Homo sapiens: one gene and its partner. The protein of the gene in region 1 purifies or fractionates together with the protein of each later gene. This does not show direct contact. Each region holds a gene or a part of one and is shown on either strand. Other genes may lie near its edges.

The links.
Region 2: the proteins of SLC36A4 (region 1) and SPPL2A fractionate together in Homo sapiens (co-fractionation; one large-scale study listed by BioGRID). This does not show direct contact.

Annotation. Positions count from the first base shown.
Region 1 is NC_000011.10:93,145,730-93,149,556, reverse strand, and holds part of SLC36A4 (neutral amino acid uniporter 4), read left to right. Parts: intron 1-712; coding exon 713-1,020; 3' UTR 1,021-3,827.
Region 2 is NC_000015.10:50,737,893-50,741,719, reverse strand, and holds part of SPPL2A (signal peptide peptidase-like 2A isoform 1 precursor), read left to right. Parts: intron 1-1,891; coding exon 1,892-2,040; intron 2,041-3,827. UniProt on the Homo sapiens protein: Intramembrane-cleaving aspartic protease (I-CLiP) that cleaves type II membrane signal peptides in the hydrophobic plane of the membrane. Functions in FASLG, ITM2B and TNF processing.

The DNA of each region.
Region 1 (3,827 bases):
CAGAAGTGATGCTGTGCACTTCTCAGTGTATCACATCATAGTATCAGTGTCTTATTGGTGATGTTAATTTTGTTTACTTGGCTAAGGTGGTCTGTTGACTTATTTCTCCACTGTAAAGCTACTAGTTCTCCTTTTATAATTAATAAGTATCTTGAAGGAAGATATTTTGAAACTCTGATCTCATCCAGTTTTTGCCCACTAATTTCAGCATTCATCAGTGACTCTTCCTATCCTGTGATTATTGTGGTATTTGCTTAATGCTTTTCTGTTTCCATTGTTCCTTCTATTTTGATTAATTGGAATTCTACTTTAAGGAATAGCTATCTCTTCTCTCTCATTTATTTATGTCCCACCACTCTATGTCTTGTGCGTTATTGAGCTGTATGGGCAGACAAAGTAATGCAAATGCTCTGGAAATAAACTATCAAAACTTCTTTGCCCAGAATTTTAAAGCAAAAAATTAAAAGTTGTTTACATAAGAAACTGTTGACAAGTGTAAGTCTAGGACATGTCACTCACTATTTTGGTCTTTCTGTCTCTCTCTAGCTTAGAACAAAATATGGCAGATTTTTTTCACAAGCAATAGTTTAGTAGTTCAACTTTCATTAATTATTTCTAGTAATTACTTTCAGTATTGAAAATACTTACTGTTAATATTCATGTAAGTAACAAACATTTAAATAAGAAAAATAAATGTATTTTCATTTTCTAGGTGCCGGAGCAATTCTTATTCCTCGTTTAGACATTGTGATTTCCTTCGTTGGAGCTGTGAGCAGCAGCACATTGGCCCTAATCCTGCCACCTTTGGTTGAAATTCTTACATTTTCGAAGGAACATTATAATATATGGATGGTCCTGAAAAATATTTCTATAGCATTCACTGGAGTTGTTGGCTTCTTATTAGGTACATATATAACTGTTGAAGAAATTATTTATCCTACTCCCAAAGTTGTAGCTGGCACTCCACAGAGTCCTTTTCTAAATTTGAATTCAACATGCTTAACATCTGGTTTGAAATAGTAAAAGCAGAATCATGAGTCTTCTATTTTTGTCCCATTTCTGAAAATTATCAAGATAACTAGTAAAATACATTGCTATATACATAAAAATGGTAACAAACTCTGTTTTCTTTGGCACGATATTAATATTTTGGAAGTAATCATAACTCTTTACCAGTAGTGGTAAACCTATGAAAAATCCTTGCTTTTAAGTGTTAGCAATAGTTCAAAAAATTAAGTTCTGAAAATTGAAAAAATTAAAATGTAAAAAAATTAAAGAATAAAAATACTTCTATTATTCTTTTATCTCAGTAAGAAATACCTTAACCAAGTTATCTCTCTTTTATGCTACTCTTTTGCCACTCACTTGAGAACAGAATAGGATTTCAACAATAAGAGAATAAAATAAGAACATGTATAACAAAAAGCTCTCTCCAGATCATCCCTGTGAATGCCAAAGTAAACTTTATGTACAGTGTAAAAAAAAAAAATCTCAGTTATGTTTTTATTAGCCAAATTCTAATGATTGGCTCCTGGAAGTATAGAAAACTCCCATTAACATAATATAAGCATCAGAAAATTGCAAACACTAGAATTAATTTTACACTCTAATGGTAGTTGATCTTCATAGTCAAGAGGCACTGTTCAAGATCATGACTTAGTGTTTCAATGAAATTTGAAAAGGGACTTTAAAACTTATCCAGTGCAACTCCCTTGTTTTTCGTCAGAGGAAAAGGAGGCCTAGAAAGGTTAAGTAACTTGGTCGAGACCACTCAGCCTTGAGATCAAGAAAACCTAATCTTCTGACTCCCAGGCCAGGATGTTTTATTTCTCACATCATGTCCAAGAAAAAGAATAAATTATGTTCAGCTTAATTTTAGTGTTGAATCTATTTGATTATATTTTAATACTTTGAAAATGAATGTGTGATTTTTAATAGTATATGTGACCTGAGCAGAAAATCAGGGAACTCCAAGAAGCCTACACTGTGGCCATATAAACCTCAGCAAGAGAAAGAAGCTATGTTCTTTTAAAACAGAATAGAGACCGCTTGCTGGTGAAACTCCTGGCTAGTAAGATGTGTGTCTAGCTATACTATTTGTGGCTTGAGCTTTTTTAATTATTACCTTCCTTTCCTGAGTTTTGTAGGCACCACATTCCTGAATGGCAGAAAATAGACACCTCAGAAAACGGAGGATTTGTGGACTCTTTCCAGCCCTGTGGCTTTTCTTATCACAGCCTTTTATTTATTATGAGCAGAATAAAAGAATCAGCTAGGTGTGGTGGTCTGTGCTTATAATCCCAGCTACTCTGGAGGATAAGTTGGGAGGATCACTTGAGAGGCCAGGAGCTTGAGACCAGCCTGGGCAGCATAGTGAGACCTCGACTCTATAAAACATAAAAATTTAAAAAAAAATTAGCCTGATGTGGCGTGTACCTGTAGTCCCAGCTACTGAGGAGGCTGAAGCAGGAGGATCCCTCGAGCACAAAAGTTTCAGGCTGTGGTAAGCTATGACTGTGCCACTGCACACCAGCCTGAGTTACAGAGGGAGATCCCAACTCTTAAAAACTAAAACAACAATAAATATATACAAGAATCATAACATAAAGGGATTCATGCTTAGAAAAAATCCATAAACTCCCTTCTAAATATTGAGACACTCCAGGCTTCTTTCAGACAAATAACTTCTAATTATTCCATATTTTTCAAGTTATTAACCAAGATAAAGAATCTCTCAGTTAGTGGGGAAAATGAAAATTATTAAGAATAGAATTGTCTTCTGACTTTAAAAACAATTTAGACTTTAAAACATGAACTGTTTACTCAGGCTGGTGATACTCTAGTTTGTTAGTATACCATACTTGAAGATATCATCAAGATCACTATAGTTGTATATATTCTCTATTTTTATATGTAAATGTTAACTTAGTTCAAGTATTTTTTGCTTGTATCGTTAACTGATCATCAAATACAATCCTAAAGATATATCAGAAGCTTTATTTTGGTACAAAGTCATAAGAATCAAAACTTTTTTAACCATTCACATTAGGTATCAACAGTAATTGTTTGAGATACTTTTATATCAATTCTGTTACACTGAGCCTTTAGTCATACTAAGAGAATGCAGAAGAAGTTATAGGAAAACGAATCTTCACTGAAACTAGTATTATATAATCTTGAATTAGATGTTTAAAAAACTTTATAGCTTGATATAAAATGAGTTGAAAATTATTATTTAATAGGAAGCAGCATTAGATTTTTGTCACCTGTTTTCAGATAATATTTCTAGTCTATGTATGTTATTTAATTTTTACACTTTGGCCCATTGTTTATTTTCCTTAAGGAATTCATCAAATGCAATGAAATTTGAATAAAATTGATCATAGCAATAAATAATTTTTAAATTCAGCACAAACTCATCTTGAGTATATTATCAATCAGGCTTCCTTTAGCAATAAGAATGGTGAATCAACATCCAGTACTAAATTCAATAAATGATGAATACTTTAAATACAAGAAAAAGTTGAATTGCAGAAAAGAAGAGGGGCTAAAAAGGAAGAAAGTTTTAATTCTCAACAAGAAACACTATTTAGATGGAAAGCTTAAATGTATTCTTATTAAGGGTATTTGATGATGCATTTTATTTGCAAAAATAACCAGTGGGTAATTTTTTCTCTGAAAATTTAGCTTTAATAAGTCGTAAAATTTCCTAAAGATTTTGGAGACGATATTTCGATTATACCAGCTCTTGCTTTTATTTTGGGAGCCTGGAGAAATGAGAGTGATTGCACCTGTCAAATTTTGTATCTCATCACTTTTGGATCATC
Region 2 (3,827 bases), on another chromosome or scaffold:
TCTGGGATCACAAGTGTGAGCCACCACACCCAGCAGAATTGTAATATTTTAATGTGATATAAATCTAGTACACTGTATGCTTTCCTTCAAGAAATTGCCTGTGCTTTTTAGTTTAATGACTATGAATAGATATTGAATTATTATGGCTCATATGTATACTATGACAAAAATTGCTTTAAATGTATTTCTGTAGTGACAGATATCATAATTAGCACCTTTTTACACTCAGGTACCACATTTGTAGAAATTTATTTAATACCCTGTCATTCAGCTCTGGAGTTTCAGGGGGAGGTGCTAGCATGTCTCCATCAACTCTCTCCCTCCTCTTTTCCCAGGCAATCTACTCTTTTTTTTTTTTTTATTTTTAAAATTAATTTTTAAAAATATATTAAAATAAATAAACTTTTTTAACCTAAATTTTATATTGAGCCCAGACCTAACAAGCAGGGCCAGGATTTGCCCAGGAGGGAGCAGAGTTTAGAACAGAGTTGTTGAAAAGTATTCAGAAGTAGTATTAATAATGTGTCATAGGTTGCATATAACTAGGAGGAGACAGTAGTAAGGTCGACAAGAGAGATTGCCCAACAAACAACAGTTGCAGTTCTTTTCCTCCTCGACTTCTGTCTCTATTATTAGCTCTGTGGCCTAGCAAGGGTTGATACAATATTTCGTTATCTTAAATAAAGGTAGGACAAAGTTATGCCTTGAATTTCTTTTGAGTCCTTTATAATACATTGATGAGCATAGACTAGGCATATAGTAAATGCTAAGTTGATTGAGAGGAGAATTTAGCGTTTACATTTAAGAGAAGCGGCTGGGTGCGGTGGCTCACACCTGTAATCCCAGCATTTTGGGAGGCTGAGGTGGGTGGTTTGCCTGAGCTCAGTTCGAGACCAGCCAGGGCAACATGGTGAAACCCCGTCTCTACTAAAATACAAAAAATTAGCCGGGCCTAACCGCATGTGCCTGTAGTCCCAGCTACTTGGGAGGCTGAGGCAGGAGAATTGCTTGAACCTGGGAGGCAGAGGTTTCAGTGAGCAGAGATCGCGCCACTGCACTCCAGCCTCGGCAACAGAGCAAGACTCTGTCTCAAAAAACAGAGAAGCTAATTTTTAGAAGTACTTTACTATCTGTAAGTTGATAATAGTAAGTTTGTAAGAAGCATTGGTTTTAGTTTGAAATTTATTATGTCAATATAATTTTCAAATTAGGTAATATAAACATCCACAAGTATTAATTTGTTTATATAATAGATGTCATCTCTTTTTTTTTTCTTTTTTTTTTTTTTTTTTGAGACGGAGTTTCGCTCTTGTTGCCCAGGCTGGAGTGCAATGGCACGATCTCAGGTCACCACAACCTCCGCCTCCCGGGTTCAAGCAATCCTCCCGCCTCAGCCTCCCAAGTAGCTGAGATTACAGGCACACACCACCACACCCGGCTAATTTTTGTATTTTTAGTAGAGACAGAGTTTCACCATGTTGGTTAGGCTGGTCTCGAACTCCTGACCTCATGATCCGCCCGCCTCAGCCTCCCAAAGTGCTGGGATTACAGGCATGAGCCATCATGCTCGGCCAACGTCATCTCTTTCAACAATTTTGCCTGCAGAAAAAAATGTTTCAAAAGTTAGTGGTTGAAAACAGATCATCTCTGGAGAGTAGCATTTAAGAGGTTTTTACTTTCTAGATTAAATATTTCTTTGTAGGGTACAGTTTTTAAAAAGTACATTACTTGCTATAACAAGATAGCTTAGAAAAATAATAAAATAAAAATATTTTAATAAATAAAAATACATTGTTTTCTTCAGAAACAGATTTAAATTGGTGTTAGAGATAAATTTTTTAAATAACTGTACTTGGCTAAGATTTGCTAAAGTTCCTGTGTGTTTGTACAGGGAAAACTTGAAAGCAGTGACAACTGAAGATAGAGAAATGAGGAAAAAGAAGGAAGAATATTTAACTTTTAGTCCTCTTACAGTTGTAATATTTGTGGTCATCTGCTGTGTTATGATGGTCTTACTTTATTTCTTCTACAAATGGTTGGGTAAGAAGTCATATTTTATGTTTGCTACTGTTAACATACATTCTTTTCACTGACTATTACTAGATTTATCTTTTCCTTTAAGCCATTCTACCTGGAAAACGTATGTGAATAATTTGGTTAATATTAATTTTTTTTTAATTATCAGAGTGTTAGGTCTCTGTTACTCTGAGATAAAAATATTCAGATTAAAAATACAATATGTGCCAGGAGCAGTGACTCACACCTGTAATCCCAGCACTTTGGGAGGCCAAAGTGGACAGATCACCTGAGGTTGGGAGTTTGAGACCAGCCTGACCAACATGGAGAAACTCCATCTATACTGAAAATACAGAAATTAGCTGGGTGTGGTGGCACGTGCCTGTAATCCCAACTACTTGAGAGGCTGAGTCAGGAGAATCGCTCGAACCTGGGAGGTGGAGTTTGCAGTGAGCCGACATTGCGCCATTGCACTCCAGCCTGGGCAACAAGAGCGAAACTCCGTCTTAAAAAAAAAAAAAAAAAAAAAAAAAGTACGTTATGTTTTCAGATAAGAACACTTCTTCATGGATGACTTGAAATAATTGCCATGGTCCCTAAGTTTTCCTCTCTGTAGATGAATGATATAGCTCAGTATCTAAGCAGTGGATTAAGGAGTTCTTGGTGGCTATATTTAGTTACATGAAATAGAAGATTATTCAAATTACTGATGTATTGCCTCTACTTACTCCCAAGTGTAGTTTATCTTTTGTCAATTTGCAAATCAAGATGTTTTATTGCTTGAATTTTATGTTACTTATATAAACAGTTAGGATCATATATCTGAAGACACACAGGTACTTCCCTGTGGTCTAGAAAGTAACTAGTTCTTTTTTTCCTTGAAGAAAGTGGGAGCAGGAACTATAATGGCTTGTCCATCTCCTGAACAGTCTTATTAATGGCTTAATAGAATGGAAATTTGCCATCCCTGGACAGTATACAGCACAAAGAGAAGGGAGACCAGGGTAAAAGGAGTGTACCTGATAAGAACTAGCAAAAAGCCCTTTTAAGAACCACCAAAGGCTACCATGCTTATGTGTATAGCATTAGCATAAATTTCTGGACTAGAAAACTAGGGCCTAGGATTTGTTTCATTCAGCTTTTTTTTTTTTTTTGGAAACAGAGTCTTGCTCTGTCGCCCAGGCTGGAGTGCAGTGGCGCAGTCTTGGCTCACTGCAACCTCCACCTCCCAGGTTCAAGTGAGTCTCCTGCCTCAGTCTCCTGAGTAGCTGGGATTACAGGTGTGCGCCACTGTGCCCGACTAATTTTTGTATTGTTAGTACAGACGGGATTTCACTATGTTGACCAGGCTGGTCTCGAACTCCTGACCTCAAGTGATCCACCTGCCTTGGCCTCCCAAAGTGCTAGGATTACAGGCGTGAGTTACCGCACCCAGCCTCATTCAGTTTTTGTTCAGTTTCTCTTGTCCTGTGACAGCAGTTTAAAAACTAGACCTATGATATCTTTTTTTTTGAGACAGTCTTGCTCTGCTCTGCTCTGTCACCCAGGCTGGAGTGCAGTGGCACAATCTGGGTTCACTGCAACCTCTGCCTCTCGCATTCAAGCGATTCTCCTGCCTCAGCCTCCCAAGTAGCTGGGACTACAGGCACATCCCACCATGCCCAGCTAATATTTGTACTTTTATTATTTGTATTTATTTATTTATTTGAGATGGAGCGATTCTCTTGCCTCAGCTTCCCAAGTAGTTGGGATTACAGGCATCTGGCACCACCCCCAGCTAATTTTTGTATTTTTAGTAGAAACAGGGTTTC